2 separate regions of the Homo sapiens genome follow, and region 1 is linked to region 2. Evidence: fine-mapped expression QTL. Tissue or cell type: lymphoblastoid cells. Region 2 holds a variant in brackets; the other region holds the start of a gene. All regions are shown on one strand. Distances are from middle to middle.

Region 1 (2,626 bases), 150 kb before region 2:
ATGCAGGCAACAGACACATGAAAAAATGCTCATCATCACTGGCCATCAGAGAAATGCAAATCTAAACCACAATGAGATACCATCTCACACCAGTTAGAATGACAGTCATTAAAAAGTCAGGAAAAAACAGGTGCTGGAGAGGATGTGGAGAAATAGGAACACTTTTACACTGTTGGTGGGACTCTAAACTAGTTCAACCATTGTGGAAGACAGTGTGGCGATTCCTCGAGGGACTAGAACTAGAATTTGACCCAGCCATCTCATTACTGGGTATATACCCAAAGGATTATAAATCACGCTGCTATAAAGACACATGCACACATATGTTTATTGTGGCACTATTCACAATAGCAAAGACTCGTGAACCATCCCAAATGTCTATCAATGATAGACTGGATTAAGAATATATGGCACATATGCACCATGGAATAGTATGCAGCCATAAAAAAGGATGAGTTCATGTCCTTTGTAGGGACATGGATGAAGCTGGAAACCATCATTCTGAGCAAACTATTGCAAGGACAGAAAACCAAACACCGCATGTTCTCACTCATAGGTTGGAATTGAACAATGAGAATATTTGGACACAGGGAGGGGAACACCACACACCGGGGCCTGTCGTGGGGTGGGGGGAGGGGGGAGGGATAGCATTAGGAGATATACCTAATGTAAATGACAAGTTAACGGGTGCAGCACACCAACATGGCACATGTATACATATGTAACAAACCTGTACATTGTGAACTTAAAGTATAATAATAATAAAAAAAGGTAAAAAAAAAAAAGTAGACACATACTATAATCACCTTGAAAAAAAAAGAAAGTCTTTCAAAGAGATAAAAAATTCCATATACTCCACTTCCTACAATTCTGGCAGTTTCCAAATACTTTTACTTATGTGAAAATGCTATCATATCCAAGAGTGCCTTTAGAGCTAAGCTAACAGTAGGCTACTGATCTTTAGCACATTGCTTTTTCTGTTGTGTTATTCAGGGGGCTTTCTCACATTTATGTTTCCATTTTTCACATTTCACAACTTTCTTTGGAGCACAGATATTTCAGGAAGATTTTAGAGCCTTTGAATAGCATTATGGACTTTTTTGCATTAATTTTTACTTTTACAAAATTGTGCTAAATATTATTTCTGTTAATTAGTGAGTTTTGTTGGGGGCCCCTTAAATTGGAACCCCAGGCTATGCCTCATTTGCTTCACTCTGGTCCTGGCCCTGAGAGAGGAACACAAAAGGGATGGTTAGAAAAACAAGAACAAATGAGCCTCCCAGAATTTTCTCAAACAACAGGCCAGTTAATTAAGGAAAGTAGATATTACATAGCTAGGTATAATGAACATGCAGTCAGTGGATTGTCTCAGTAATTTATGGAGATAACCACCAACAAAAAGTGTATGTGGGTGGGGACAAAAGAGAGACAACAAAGTACTGCAGGCAGAAAGCTTCCTTTTGCTGATTTTGCCTCACAGAATTGAGAGTTTGTTCTTACACACAAGTTTAATGCCACCTTCCTCTGTCTGCCATGGACCAACAAGCAATATATGCTGAGTTAAACTTACCCACAGACTCAGGCCCAGAAAGTTCTTCACCTTCATCTCTTCCTCGGGGTAAGTGGCTTTAATTTTCCTTTCGGCATTTGTATGTCTTCCAGAATTAGATCTTCCTGTTACATTTATGGCTTTAAATCATTGCTTTAAAGATGAGCAGTAGTTTTATATTAATGTTTAACGGGTGTTGCATGGCTTGCCTGTAGATAATCACAACTTTGGGAAAAAAAATTTAAACCTCATACATTTATTTTTTTCAATCAAGTTAGCATGAAAAGCAAACATCACTTGTCTTACTGAGCCTTGGTTAAAAGACTCTGAACACTTTAGGCTACCCTGGGCACACTGCCTATTGGTTACCCCTGCTCTACAGGGATGGAAAGAAGGAAGAAAGAAAGAAAGAAAGAAAAGAAAGAAAGAAAGAAAGAAAGAAAGAAAGAAAGAAAGAAAGAAAGAAAGGAAGAAAGAAAGAAAGAAAGGAAAGAAAGAGAAAGAAAAGAAGAAAGAAAGAAAGGAGAGAAAGAAAAAGAAAGAGAGAGAAAGGAAAGGAAAGAAAGAAAAAGAGAAGGAGGAAGGAAGGAAGGATGGAAGGAAGGAAGGAAAAATATTTTACATGTATGAACTAAGGAATATTTAAGACACATTGCAAACTTGCTGTAATAACAACCTACGTTATTCCAAATTCCTCTACAAAATATCAATACTATGATTAAGTCCCAGTGCATTTTCATCCATAATATTCCTTTCAGAATACAACGTGTAGGCCAGTTGCAGTGGCTCATGCCTGTAATCCCAACACTTTGGTAGGCTAAGGTGATTTGCTTGAGTCCAGGAGTTTAAGGCCAGCCTGGGCAATGTGGCAAAACCTCATCTCTACAAACAATACAAAAAAATAGCCAAGTGTGGGGCACGTGCCTGTGGTCCTAGCTACTCGGGAGGCTGAGGTGAGAGGATTGCTTGAGCCCAAGAGATCAAGGCTGCAGTGAGCTGTAATTGTGCCACTGTACTCCAGCCTGGGTGACACAGCAAGACTATCTCAAAAAAAAAAAAAAAATATATATATATATA
Region 2 (2,768 bases):
TTGATGGCGGCAGCAGGTCAGGGCTAACTCACTCACATTACCAGAGGTTAGCGGCAAATGCTCCGTGGCACTGGCTACTCATGGCAGAAGGGAACTGCAGAGACAGCCCCAAAGTCTGCCAAAGAGAGGCTGCCAAAACTCTTTCTACTTCAGGGAAACTTCCTCCTTTCCCCCATTCAGTACTGACTGCCTACCTTTGCTTTTAGTTGGTGAGAGGAAACTAGCTTTATTTTTTTTATTTTTATTTTTTTTGAGATGGAGTCTCGCTCTGTCGCCCAGGCTGGTGTGCAGTGGCGCAATCTCGGCTCACTGCAAGCTCTGCCTCCTGGGTTCATCCCATTCTCCTGCCTCAGCATCCTAGGAGTAGCTGGGACTACAGGCGCCCGCCACCATGCCCGGCTAATTTTTGTATTTTTAGTAGAGATGGGGTTTCACCTTGTTAGCCAGGATGGTCTCCATCTCCTGACCTCGTGATCCGCCCGCCTTGGCCTCCCAAAGTGCTGGGAAACTAGCTTTTTGGATGAGCTGATGAGCTGTACAACCAGGTAAGTCTACTGGGGTGCAAAGTAGTAGTCCACTTTCTTTACCATTTGGGCCTTTGGACCATTTGTGGTACCACTGGTAGAAGAAATGACTCATAGTGACTCCATACCAGTCTCTTCCTTTGTGAAAGCCTGGGTTGGAAAAGTGCTTCATTTGTTTTGGTTGTGTTTTGTTTGTGTCCACCATGGGAAGTTTTTTTCATCAATCCCCTCTCAGAGCCCGCTGTGGTTCATATTGGCTGACTGGTAAGCCTACAGTGATAACCCTACGACAAAAAAGATAATCTACTGCAATAAGGTGTGGCCAATGTACGTGATACATGAGGAAGATAGGTGGCCATTACATGGTTCTTTGAATTTACAGCTTGAACATTTCAATCTGAGATCAGGAAATTGGGACTGCATACCTTATATTCAAGCTTCTATGTTGGTACATAATAAGCATGCTTCCCAGAAAGGTTGCTGGCTGACGGTGCAAACAGGACCATATCAGGTAAAATCTCCTCACTCTCCATTACCTGAGGAGGAAGAGAAGGAGATAGGATAATCTTATCAACTATAAACCCTCCACAGGCAAATGATGCTGAGGCTTTGCAGGTGCCTGTCCCATTGCAGCCTGCTCTGGTGCCTGTGCAAGTTCCCATGGAGGCCCCAGCTGCAGTACCAGCACAGTACCCTGAGTTG[C/T]CCCATCTCTGCCCCCTCCACCAGAGGATTATCCAGATAATACAGACTTACAGGGTGTGGTGGCCCCTCCTCATTTTAAAGGTAGCCAAGAAATAGGCTCCCCTTTTAAGACCTGACAAGGCAACTAAATTTGACCAGAGCGTACACCCTCATGTGGCAGAACAATTTCTGTTATGCAAATTCCCCGCTGGAGGATTAAACGCACAGGGCCATACTCCTGGGCTATTTTGGTTATTCACCATTTTCTATCTTTGACTAAGTAAATTGAAAAATATTCAAGTCCATCCTATAGGGATGATCCATAGGAGATGACTGAAATATTCACCAGTATTTTTTCTACTCATCATTCCACAATAGCAGGTGTACAAGCATTATTAAATTTTATGATGAAAGGGGGTTATTTTTAGACAAGACTAATGATGGAGCCAGAAGGCTATACCAGCAAGACCCTGCTGGGTCCTCCAACACCCCAGAGGCAATTTCCTTAGTGAAACTCAAGTGAAACCTTAATAATGAGGTTATATCTTGACTGTAGGATTACTCCTAAGAAAGGGAGTACCTAAGCAGCAAAGCCTCAATAAAAAACATCCATGACCTCTGGTAGGAGGCCAATGAAAACCCAGCCGCTTGGTTGGAACAAGTGTATCAGGCTTACAGAAAATATTCAGATATTGATCCAGAGGCTCTGGAACATGTTTGGGTCATAAATATAACTTTCATCAGCCAAAGTGCTTCTGACATTAACAGAAAATTAGAAAAGCAGGAAGGGACTGTTGGAATGAACCCTTCCCAGTTTACAGATATTGCTTACAAAGACTTCAATGCTAGAGAAACAAGAAAAGCTAGACAGGCAACCATTTTTGTGGAGACTATTCAAAAAGGTGGAAGAATGAGGGGTGAAATAGAAAGGAATCCCTAGACAAGGACCAGTGTGCCTACAGTGGGGAAATCTGGACATGAGAAGTATGCCCCCCAAACCTACAGAGAAAAGATGGTAATAAAAAAGACAAGGGAGAGGAAAAGGGAAATATACGCCAAAGAAGGAGATGGTGGAGCAGGATTGTGACTCTGATGAAGACTGATTGGGCACAGGGACTCCGCCTGATTTAACAGAGCAACAATAATTTCCCTACAGGAGCCCTGGGTACAAGCGACAGTGGGGAACAAAATGACTGGCTTATTGGTTGATACTGTCGCAATGTTTCCAGCCAAGGCTGGAGTCACTGGGAAGTTACAACAGAGACTCTTTCTTAAGCCCTAAGAATGTAAATTGAGGGATATAAGATTGAGGTATAGCTTTCTGTATATGCCACATTGCCCTATTCCATTGTTGGGCCAAGATTTGTTATGTAAATTAAATGCCCACGTCACTTTTGCTCCTGAGAAACAACATCTAAGAATCCAGGTATCACCCAAACATGTCCTATGCCTACAGGCACTGGTGATTCAGCCAGAGAAAAGAACTCAAGAACCATTCCTGCTGGAAGTCTACAACAGAGGGAGTAGCACTGTTTGGGAAGACAGGGAACCTGAACTAGCAGT

Which allele goes with the higher level. Positions count from the first base shown, and alleles are read on the strand shown. Sizes are in standard deviations (SD) of each study's normalised expression.
As copies of T replace C in region 2, the expression in lymphoblastoid cells of the gene that starts at base 1,457 in region 1 goes down (moderate effect, 0.68 SD a copy in TwinsUK).

What was found. PIP is the estimated chance that this variant, and not a neighbour inherited with it, causes the effect.
Region 1: KLRB1 starts here. The variant in region 2 is fine-mapped to the expression of KLRB1 in lymphoblastoid cells (TwinsUK, PIP 0.91).

What each region holds. Positions count from the first base shown.
Region 1 is chr12:9,606,747-9,609,372 of GRCh38, reverse strand. KLRB1 (killer cell lectin like receptor B1) reads left to right here and starts at 1,457. Exons shown (of 6, transcript NM_002258.3): 1 at 1,457-1,618. The coding sequence starts at 1,534.
Region 2 is chr12:9,459,616-9,462,383 of GRCh38, reverse strand. It overlaps the pseudogene OVOS1P. Among named protein-coding and RNA genes, the nearest start is that of LINC02367, 94 kb to the right of the region's middle. The variant C/T (reference allele first, on the strand shown) is at 1,227.